Linked DNA regions of Homo sapiens. The protein of the gene in region 2 purifies or fractionates together with the protein of the main gene of each other region. This does not show direct contact. Each region holds a gene or a part of one and is shown on either strand. Other genes may lie near its edges.

What was found.
Region 1: the proteins of ARSI (region 2) and AHCYL2 purify together in Homo sapiens (affinity purification with mass spectrometry; 2 studies listed by BioGRID and IntAct, with this or other methods). This does not show direct contact.
Region 3: the proteins of ARSI (region 2) and FBXO21 purify together in Homo sapiens (affinity purification with mass spectrometry; one large-scale study listed by BioGRID and IntAct). This does not show direct contact.

Annotation. Positions count from the first base shown.
Region 1 is NC_000007.14:129,392,399-129,396,046, reverse strand, and holds part of AHCYL2 (adenosylhomocysteinase 3), read right to left. Parts: intron 1-3,648. UniProt on the Homo sapiens protein: May regulate the electrogenic sodium/bicarbonate cotransporter SLC4A4 activity and Mg(2+)-sensitivity. On the contrary of its homolog AHCYL1, does not regulate ITPR1 sensitivity to inositol 1,4,5-trisphosphate.
Region 2 is NC_000005.10:150,300,055-150,304,282, reverse strand, and holds the start of ARSI (arylsulfatase I precursor), read left to right. Parts: upstream 1-1,377; 5' UTR 1,378-1,909; coding exon 1,910-2,220; intron 2,221-4,228. UniProt on the Homo sapiens protein: Displays arylsulfatase activity at neutral pH, when co-expressed with SUMF1; arylsulfatase activity is measured in the secretion medium of retinal cell line, but no activity is recorded when measured in cell extracts. Lacks arylsulfatase activity.
Region 3 is NC_000012.12:117,152,403-117,156,050, forward strand, and holds part of FBXO21 (F-box only protein 21), read right to left. Parts: intron 3,547-3,648; coding exon 3,389-3,546; intron 1-3,388. UniProt on the Homo sapiens protein: Substrate-recognition component of the SCF (SKP1-CUL1-F-box protein)-type E3 ubiquitin ligase complex.

The DNA.
Region 1 (3,648 bases), on a different chromosome or scaffold from region 2:
TTCTTGAGCCCATCAAAGATTTGAGGTCATAAAGCACAGAAGTGAACTGCCCTCCAAAGAGTGACAAATCCTTTTAAAGAGAGAGGGAAGACTGTTTCACCTTTGGCAGTGCATGGGGGGAAGAAATGGCTGCCACAGATAAGAATAAGAAAATATCAGCTAAACTTTTGAACAATTACGAAAGGCTGGGTGTGGGAAAGTGTGTCAATGTGGAATTTTTTGAAGCTCCAGACACAAGTAGATTTCCCATTCACATGCAGGCTGTTTTCCAGAGGCTTCCACCCAGTGCTCAAAACAAAGACTGGGGCAGGGAGCTGATTGGCTGTGCTCAGAAACAGACATGAAACCTGGGCACTTCCCTACACTCTTCTCTCATAGGAACCAAAGCCTCAAGCTGTAGGAAGAGCAGGAATTGGGCCTGCCATTAGGGACTAGGCAAAGATCCACTGTGTCTGGAGGAAGGCAGAAGCAAAAACTCTGCCTCTGGGAGAGGCACAGGAAAACCTCTTGGGCCCAGGACAGTTCACTGATACAAAGTAAGGATCTGCTACCTCTCCAGCTCTCCAGGAAGGGCAGGAAAATATGTCTTGCCCAAGACCCACCACAGATTCAAGGCAAAGTTTGGCTGCTACAGATAGGAGAGGCAGGAATATTGAGAAAACCCTGCCCCTCACAGAGGTCTGCCTAAGACTGAGACTGCACCAGAGATCCAAGAACCCCACTTGCCCTCACCGTGTGCTTAGCCCCAGGAAACAAAGAGCAGCAGTCTAGTGCGGCAGATGAGGCAGGTACTTGAAAAGAGGACACTTCTGTGGCACACATGTGCAGAAGTAGCTGAAGGCTGAGGGTAAAGCAGAAGCACTGAGGAATGTCCTTTGGTAACCTCAAATCACAAGGTTATAGCAGTCCACTGCTGGAGGAATTTGAAGCCTTTGTTGATATACAATGAACTCTAAATTCAGCCCAATTCATGACTATAACGAAAACTAATATACTACCACTCAATTAAAAATGTCAGGACATACAAAAAGTAAAAAAAAAAACCCACTGTCAGGAAATAAGTAAACAACAGAGGCAGGCTCTCAGATGAGCCAGATGTTTGATCAGACAGGAGATATAAAATAACTATGATTAATATGTTTATGTTATTTATTTATATTTTTTTATACACAGGATCTTGCTATATTGCCCAGGCTGGACTAATATGTTTATGTTAAAGGATCTAGTTGAGAAAGATAGACAACATCTATGAATAGATAGAAAATTTCAGCAGAGATGGAAACAATAAAAAGTCAAATACAGGCTGGGTGCAGTGGCTCAGGCCTGTAAAGGCCAGCACTCTGGGAGGCCAAGGTGGGCAGATCACCTGGGGTCGGGAGTTTGAGACCAGCCTGACCAACATGGAGAAACCCCATCTCTACTAAAAATACAAAATTAGCTGCTTGGTGCCACATGCCTTTAATCCCAGTTATTCGGGAGGCTGAGGCAGGAGAATCGCTTGATCCCAGGAGGTGGAGGTTGTGGTGAGCCAAGATTGCACCGTTGCACTCCAGCCTGGGCAACAAGAGCAAAACTCTGTCTCAAAAAAAAAAAAAAAAAAAAAAAAGTCAAATACAAATGCCAGGAAAAAAAAAAAGTCAGATTAAAAGTTCCTTCAACAGGTTTATCATCAGACCGGGCACATCCAAGGACAGAATCAGTGAACCTGAAGATAGACCAATAAAAATTACTGAACTGAGCCAGGCACAGTGACTCATGCCTGTAACCCTAGCGCTTTGAAAGGCTGAGGCAGGAGATCGCTTGAGGCCAGGAGTTTGAGACCAGCCTGGGCATCACAGCAAGATCTCTTCTCTACAAAAAATTAAAAAAAATTAGCCAGGCATAGTGGTATATGCCTGTAGTCCCAGTTACTTGGGAGGCTGGGGCAGGAGGATCGCTTGAGCCCAGGAGTTTGAGGCTGCAATGAGCCTGCAATGATTGTACCACTGCACTCCAGCCTGGGTGACACAGTGAGACCCTACTCAACAAAACAAAACAACAACAAAAAAAGAAATTACTGAACTGAAATACAAAAAGAAGAAGACTGGCAGAAAAAAATCACAACGGAGTGCTCAAAATCTATGGGGTCTATGGGAGTCTATGGATTCTTTCCCTCTTTGCCTTCTGGAACTCCAGTTACATGTATGGAGAGGGAAAAAAGAGGATCTGGGAACAATGACATTTCAAAAGCAAAGAGCACATTAGTGCCCAGATCCACTAAAAGGAGCTAGGCATTCTGGGAGAAATGGCTGGTTCCAAGAGTAGGGCATGGAATGTTCAAGATGAGCTTAGGTGATCTTGTACCAAAAGCAAGGAAATGTTCAAAGAATGAAAGGGATATATCAAAAGACAAAAGAAGTCACAGAAGCCACACTGAAGAGGCTCTCCCTGGTCAAACTGGGAACAAGATGATCATGTAAATAAGTAATGATAGTAATGGATTATAACCTATTAAATAAAATAGGAAACAATGATTCCATACAAATAAAAATAATGAATAAATCAAAGTAAGATAAAGAATGAGATATTTACAGTTTCATAGTACTATCTCACATAAACATATTAATTCTATTTTTATTTATTTTTGAGACAGGGTCTCACTCTGTCACCCAGGCTGGAGTGCAGTGCAATCTCAGCTCACTGCTCACTGCAATCTCGACCTTTCGGGCTCAATCAATCCTCCCACCTCAGCCTCCCAAGTAGCTGGAACTACAGGCACATGCCACCACACCTGGCTAACTTTTGTATTTTTTTGTAGAGATGGGGTTTTACCATGTTGCCTAGGCTAGTCTTCAACTCCTGGGTTCAAGTGATCTGCCAACCTTGACGTCCCAAAGTGCTGGGATTACAGGCGTGAGCCATCACACCCAGCCCAAAAAACATATTAATTATAAACTGGGAAAAAAACTTTTACAGAGGAAAATCCTGGGAGACACCACCTCAATCAAGGGATTAAAGTGAATATCATCAGTTCTGGGACAAACTGAAATCATGTGTCACCTGATAGGATATATCACTTCCCTGAATTCCCACCATAGATGTATAGCCTGAATCTCATAATGAGGAAGCATCAGAAAAATCCAAATTGAGGAAATTCTACAAAATAATTCATCTGTAATCTTCAAAAGTGTCAAGGTCATGAAAATCAAAGAAAGACTGAGAAACTGTTCTGTACTAATGAAGATTAAAAAGACATGACAACTAAATGTGACATATAACCATGGACTGGATTCTTTTGTTAGAAAAATATTATCAGAACAACAAGCGAAACTCCAGTGGGATCTAAGGATTGGATGGTAATAATGAATCAATGTTAATTTTCTACTTCTGATGGTTATACTGCTAGTACAGGAAAATGTCCTTCTTTGTAGAAAATACACACTAAAGTATTTGGGGATTGCTATGGTCTGAATGTATGTTCTCCTCCCCCAGAGTCATATGTTAAAAACTAACCCCCTAGGCGATGGTATTAAAAGGTGATTATGGAAGTGATTGGAAGGTGATTAGACATGAGATTTCTGCCCTCACAAATGGGATTAGTGTACTTATAAAACAAGCCTGAGGAAGCTTGCTTGCCCCTTTGGCCATGTGAGGGCACATAGAAAGCGC
Region 2 (4,228 bases):
TGGTTTTAAGTAAGAGGGAAGGGATCATGACAGAATCTTGGCAGGGGAAAGATGCTAGGAGAGAAGATGCACCTGGGCAGTCTTTGCTTCCCAAAGTCCCCAAACACTGGCCCTTCAAGAAGCTGGTTGGGGGGTGGGGGGAGCAGGAAAGAGGGTCCATGGTAACATAACACTGGGAAATACAGCCTAACCAGCCCCTCCTGCAGATCAGCAGTGTGCATGTTAAACATTTGAAATCCTAGAAGTAAAGAAGCCTAACTGGTTTTGTTTAGCCCAGTTTTTCCATTTAAAAATGTAGCCTAGTAAAATTTTGCAAAACAATGATGCAGAGCAGAGCTTGCAAACCGGCACCGATGGTCTGATATATTCCTGGGAGAGGTCTGATTTGGCCTACAAAGTGCTTAAATTTTGCTTTCAATTAGTCACTAACATTTCACAATTGGAATAGTTCTCCTAATAGATAAAGAGGGTATTCCTCTTGAAAAATCAGAAGATCTGGAAACACTGGTCCGTATTCTTGCCTGACTGTAGTCAGCTGGAAGCCAGGCTGTGGTTTTTAACTTGCTGCAGCCCCTGTGTCTCCTTAGGGCAAGACAACTATCTCTTGCTCTACTCATTTATGATGCTCATCGGGTTCCAGAGTCCCCCAAGCTTGCCTTCTCTGGTGTGGAGGTTTCCTTGGGTAGGCTGGCCTAGGTGACCATTGGGGCCCATTCATCCATTCACTCATGCAACATATACTGATTGAGCTTATACTGTGTGCTGCACCCTGTGGATACGAGATGGATAAAACAGCCCCTGCCCTCTGGATTCCAGCGCTGGCATTCTAAGATTCTAGTTGGGAACTGCAGAACGAGGAGGAGGGAGGGGTTGAGGAGAGGGGAGCTGGCAAGGCTACAACCAAGCTTCCTGACTTGCAGCCGCGGGGGCTTGCCAAAGTGCTTGCCATTCTCCATCGCTTTCTCTACCGGCTCACCGAAGGGAGCCGCCACTCCAACAGCCACGGTGAGCCTTAGAGACATAGCCACTGACTTGTTCTGTGACTTAGACGCGTTGAGGCTCATCTCCGGGCCTCAGTTTCTCCATCTGTAGAATGACCCGGTTGGACTAGGAAATGATGGGCTTTCCTTCCAGGGCTGGCACTCAGAGAGGCTAAGACTCCATGATCGAGGAATGTCTGACCCAGCCATTCTGGAGCTGTTCCATCGAATTCCAAGCAGCCCCACTCCCTCCTTTCCCCATCCCGGTCAGGGGCGGGCGCTGGAGCCAGCAGGCCGAGAGGGCCGGGGCTTCCCGCCCGGGAGGTGGAGCCGCTGCTCTGCGTCCCGCCCCTCCACCTGGGGCTCGGCCCGGCCCGGCAGATGTTACAACTTTTTCGAATTCTCTCCCGCCGTGTCCCCTCGACCCGCCCAACTTGTGCCTCCCTCCCCTTCCCCTCTGGGGTCCTGCCCACCTCCCTGCAGGGAGCTGGGCTGTTTTAAGGACTCCGGGTGGGGCGAGAGGCCGGGAAAGCAGAGGAGAGAGAAATTAGGAGGCGGGAGAAATCCAGGGCAAGAAGGAAGAGGGGAGTCAGAGGATGGTAGAGAGCACTTTTTGGAAGCTGCCACGCCGCGTCTCAGGCTGGCCGGGCTGAGCTGGGGAAGAGGGAGCAAAGGCGGCGCAGGGCCTGCGCTTAGGCAGCGGGAGGCAGCTCGGCGCGGGCCTGACCTCCCCAGAGCGCCCCGCTGCGGCCGAGCAGATCCGGCCCAGCCGTCCGGCAGCCAGTCCCGGACCAGACACTGGACCGTCCCCGGGGGGCGCTGAACTCCCTCGCAGCATCCGAGCCGGCGGGCCGGTGGTGCGCCCTGGGCGCGCGAGGTGGTGAGGCCCCAGGAGCCCGGCGCGCCGGGACGCGCGGGCCGGCTTGGCGATGCACACCCTCACTGGCTTCTCCCTGGTCAGCCTGCTCAGCTTCGGCTACCTGTCCTGGGACTGGGCCAAGCCGAGCTTCGTGGCCGACGGGCCCGGGGAGGCTGGCGAGCAGCCCTCGGCCGCTCCGCCCCAGCCTCCCCACATCATCTTCATCCTCACGGACGACCAAGGCTACCACGACGTGGGCTACCATGGTTCAGATATCGAGACCCCTACGCTGGACAGGCTGGCGGCCAAGGGGGTCAAGTTGGAGAATTATTACATCCAGCCCATCTGCACGCCTTCGCGGAGCCAGCTCCTCACTGGCAGGTAGGCGTGGCTCAAGGCCCCGGGGCTGGGCATCTAAACCCCAAATCAACCCAGTTGATAGATTTCTCCTGCCAGTACCACCCCATGCTGGGATCTGGGAAATCTCCTGTTGGCTGTGTAATCATTAGTAAGTCCCTCGCCCTCTCTAGGCCTCAATTACCCTTCCTTTACACTGAATGGGCTTCATCATCTTTGAGGTCTTCTTGCTTTGATGTTCCAGGACACTCACATTCCACACAACGTGGAGACATCTGGTCATCCCTTTGTTAGAGGAACATGGCAGCCTCTGACATTTACTGCTGCTTCTATTTATGGACCCCGAGACCCTGAGCAAGTCATTTAATTTCTCTAAGCCTCAGTTTTCTTGTCCATAAAATGGAGCAAAGAACAGTTTTCATCTTGAAAAGGAGTGGCAAAGTTGGAATGAGTTGTGTGTAACCTGCTTGGCTGTCAATATATGGCAGCCTCTATGTCTCCTGAGGGATTCAGGTCCCCATACTGCTTGATGAATACATTGGGAGAAGACCAAGGAATTGATAGGTGGAAGAGAAAGACACATAGGATACCATGACCTGTGTAGCCTTAGGGTGGTTACTTCATTTCTCTGAGCCTCTGTTTTTTCATCTGCAAAATCCTCCCAAGTTGGCTGGGAGCCCCAAGTAGACATGCTGCTTCCTCCACAAGGAAATGTCCACAGGCGAGGCAGCAGGATTACAGGATTAAAAGAGCAGGGAAACAGGAGGTGGGGGTATGGAAGGCAAACTCTGGCCACTTAGGAGAAAATCCTTTGGCAGTGCTGAAGCTAATTCTCCTTGGATGGGGTCCAAGGCATGCTTTCTCCCAAGTTCCACCCAAGAGCCACTAATGTGATCTCAGGAACCAGAAGCCTTAGTCTCCCTGTTTCTTAGTCTCACTATTTCTTGGATGGGAGAAATTGAGGCAAGGACTCAGGGAGGGCCTAGTTTGGTGCCCGTGCCCAACTTCAGGGTCTGTGGGAGATAGGATTGAGAGGCCAGGTGTTTGGCGGGGGTCCCGGAGCTGGGCATCAAATGGCGTCCTTTGTTCCTTCGATCTGGCACCCAGCGTTTAGATCCAGGAATCAGAAGGAGAACAGAAGAAAGAAGGAGGGGTGTGGGGTGTGTATGGGTTGGGGTGGTGGTGCAGGTTAGTGGTGTAGTGGTGAAGACCAATGTTGACCTGCAGAAGAGGGTGGAGGAGTCTGCATTCCCAAGAGTTATACACAACTTAGCGTTTCTGTCCTAAGAGGTGACTTTTGGTTTAAGTAGCGGAATGAGCAGACAGCAGGAGGGCAGTGCTCCAGTCCCCTGATCTGCGAAGCTAACTGAAGGTGGCCGGCCAGTGCCTGCCCTCCCCCACCCTGCAGCTGGCTCCATCTCATTGATGCTTACAGCCCTCGTTAGTGTTTGTTAACACATCCAGTTGTGTTTTGTGACACTGGAGAGAGGCAAAGTTTCTCTTGTGACTCACTTGCAGGTGGGCTTTGGTGACTCTTAGCTGGCCCATCCGCTTTACAAGCCAGCGCTCCACAGCACCCCACCTCTATGAAGACCGGCCCAGTTGGGACTCAGGGCCCTAGGGTGCTTCTCATATCAAATCCAATAATTTATTAGCTTGATTGAGGCCTGGAGAGGCCGTTATCACCAAAAGATTTTGAGCATGACTTGAGTGGACCCAGGTTCAAAGCTTAGCTCCACTGCTTGTCAGCTCTCTGAACTTGGGTCATTGCTGCACTTTCGGGGGACTTGGTTTTATCATCTGTAGAATGGGGGTGGTAATAGACTTCCCTGTAGGTTTTTAAAATGAGAGTTAAATGAGATAATGTATGTGTATGGCACATAGTGTTAAAAATGGCAGTAGTAGCTAATTAGAGCTAACAACAATAACAGCTTTAAGATAAGGAAACCAAAACAGAAACTCACTCCTGTGCTCTGGTTAAAGATGTCAGGTATTCAGGGCTTGGATTAATTTGGATGCCTGGAGGTGAGAA
Region 3 (3,648 bases), on a different chromosome or scaffold from region 2:
CTGCAGTGACTCATGTTTGTACCACTGCACTCCAGCCTGGGTGACAGAGCACCCTGTCTCAAAAAAAAAAAAAAATTTACAAGACAACCAGTCTGGATTCTTCAAAAAGTCAAAGTCATATGAAAAAGGGGGGAAAAAAAATGAAGAATGAGGAACTGTCTTTAATAAGAGAGACTAAAGAGAAAAAAAACAACCAAATGCAGTGAATGAATTCTGGTTGGATACTGATTTTAAGAAACAAGCCAAAAATAGGCATAAAGTTATTTTGTGACAATTGAGAAATTTGAAAACTATTAGATATTATAAAATAATTGTTACTAGGTGTGATAATGTAATTTGGTTATGCAGAGGAATCTCCTTATACTCAGACATAATTAGGTCATGTCTGCAATATTCTTTCAAATGGTGCAGGAAAACAGTAAAATCTCTATAGATAAAGCAAATATGGGAATCATTTACTGTTGAATTGACTAGAGGGTAAATGGGGGTATTTGATGTATTCTTTTAACTGTTCCACGTGCGAGCAAGAATGATGACTTCAAAGAAGATGAACGGAAGTGGGCTGGAGTATGTCAGGCGTGGGAACCGTGCTGGGGCTGTAAGGGGAAGGCCAGATCCCTAGGGCCTGGTAAAGCATTCTGCACTGCCTGCCGATGAGAAACTCCTGATGGTCAGTCAATTCAAGCAGCAAGTGGCCCGGTCCAGGGACACGCTAGGAAGATCCTCTTGCTGTTGCTAAGGAAAATGCCCGGTTGGGGACAGGCCGGGAGGCAGGTGCCAGTTAGGAAGTAGGCAAGCAGAGACCACCAGAATGGAAATGGGAGACACATGAGGAGACAGCAGTGGGTGTGTAGACAGATGTATCGCGAGGGCAAGGGGAGAAGAGCAAGACACGGCCCCCACGTGGTGTCACTAGTGAGATGGGGCAGGCAGGAGCAAGGGGGGTATGGGGGCACAATGAGTTCATGTTTTTTCTTTCTTTACAGAGATAATCGAGTTAAAACAATGGGTTCAGTGAGTCGGGGTAACAATGTTGGAGAGAAGACCCCTGAGAGCCCTCCAAGCACACATGCCCGGGGGCTGTTACAGAGGTGGGCACGGAGCCCAGAGAAGAGCCCAGAGAACACGGCTTTGGGAGTCACCAGCACATCCACAGACACCCCAAGGGGGAAGGAGATGAAGGCCTAGAGGAGAGTCCCCTGGAGAGGGAGGACCCTGAAGACAGCCACGTATCAGGCATGCTGGGGGAGATCTGCCCCTTGGCCCAGGACTCCGAGTCCCTCAGGAAGCGCTTGCTGACACAGCGCTGATGGAGCCGCCGGCAGAAGACGGGAACTCTCATAGTGTAGGAACAGCTTTGAAGTTCTACGTTTTAAATTCAAGAAGCCAATTTGCTAACATTACCCATCATTTAGTTCCATCTCAATTTAACAGATGGTAAAACCAACAAGCAGATATTAATTTTTTCAGTAATGACAATTTTATGACTAAACCTTACATTGCATGTTTACCTAGATATGATTAGAGATCAACTTCTGAAGTGAACATATCACAACCCCTAAAACCAAATACTTAAGACCAACCCTAAACAGTGAATAATGATGCCATGTGGTAAAGCCATAGACACTGGCCCACGGTGTTGTTGAAAAGAAAATGCTCATTTATTCTTGTGAACGCCATTTGTTGTAGGCTATCAAGCGTTTACCAGGTGACTTGTGCTGGCACCAGTGGCCCAGTGAATCAGTCAATAATGTCCAAATCATGTGTTGATTTTTAGAGATTGTTTATATTCGACACAGCTTCAAAAGTTAAATAACATTACCGTTGGTGCCTCCATCTGCCACAGGGAGCACAGAAACCCCTTACACCATCCCCATCACACTGAGACAGGGCAAGCGACCTGCAGTTTCAACAAACATTTATCTTGATGCTGCTGTTCCAGGGGATCCTTTCAGTTTCTGATTAACTGACAATAATCATTATTTTCCAGCCTTTTATTTTAAGATGAGGTCTCACTCTGTCACCCAGACTGGAGTGCAGCAACACAATCAGAGCACACTGTAGCCTTCACTTCCCAGGCTCAAGTGATCCTCCCAACCCAGCTTCCTGAATAGCTGGGACCACAGGTGTACACTACTCTGCCTGGCTAATTTTTAAATTTTTTTGTAGAGATGGGGTCTTGCTGTGTTGTAGCTGGGAACACAGGTGCACATGACTCTGCCTGGTTAATTTTTAAATTGCAGAGATGAGGTCTTGCTGTGTTGCCCAGGCTGGTCTCCAACTCCTGAGCTCAAGCAATCCTCCTGCCTCACCCTCTCGAAGTGCTGGGATTATAGGTGTGAGACACCTCACCTGGCAATCTCCAGCCTTTCAGAAAGTTCTGAGGTTTTTATACATCCCATATTTTGATTATTGGATTTATCAGAACATAATATTGAGTTAGGTCAAAACTCAGACATGAGCAGGTACAGCATGATGGATGAAGAGGAGGCTCTGTCAAGCTGCCTGGCTTCAAATCGTGTTCTCTAAGTTAAAATCTCAATGGCTTCCCTGTGCCTCAGTTTCCTCACCTAGAAAATGATGATGATGATGTTTCTCAAATGGAGTTAATATACATTAGAATGATGTCCGTCACAGAATGGCACTACATTAGCATTCACATTCATTTTTATTAATAAATGTGAATTATTAATTAATCAATGTGAATGCTTTGACAGACATACACTGAATTCATCCTATTAAGTAGAGGTGAAATTCAACAGGAACAAAGAGAAGGGAGACTCACACTGAAGGCATTCTTGTCTCTTACCAGCTTCCACAGGCTCTGTCAGTCTCCACCTCAGCCTTGCCCTGGGCTGGCACCTGCCGGGGCGGCAGTGGCCCAGACGCCTACCCAACCTTACTGTACACTTGCGGGCTCTCAGGTGCTCCCAGGGCCGGCGCAGTGGGCTGCAGTTCCCACAGGTGGCCACACGAGGGCATCTCCGGCGTCAGCCGGCAGCCACAGCCTTGGGAGGCCAGGGAGCACTAGGGGGCCCCCAGGTGTTCATCCGGTTCCCTTCTAGTCTGGGAGGAGCCGAGGGCAGGGTCCAGGAGGCAGGACTTACAGGAATTTGATTGGCATAGACAGTGGCCAATCAGATGTCCGGGCTGTGGGAGCGGAGGCCCTGGGGGAGGGCGGGTATGACTACTGACCCCTCGCCAGGGCGGCACCTGTGCAGACCCAGCCACGTTTAGCTGACTGTGGGCCCGAAGGAGGCCGGCCATGGGGCGTCGGCCGCCTCTGAAGGAACCGATGGCCCACGCCCACAGTACCTACCCGAGGGCTCAAACGTGCGCTGAAAACACGCCCGCGGGGCCACTGGCACAAGCGGAACCCGCCGCTTACCTTGGGCTGCGTATCGACAGGAGCCGTCCTCCACCAGCACGTTATAGAAAGGCTGGTGGTGGCCGTGCGGCAGGCTGTGGACGTTCATGTTCCGGATCCACTCGTGTCCCATCATGCAGGTGGGGTCCCAGCCGTAGATCACACAGTTATAGCCATACCTAGTTAACACAGGAGGAGCAGTCAGTCCCTGCAGACCCGGCCGCAACAACCTCCAGACAACCGCGTGGCTTCTCAGCTCACATCCTCAGTTACCTGCTTTA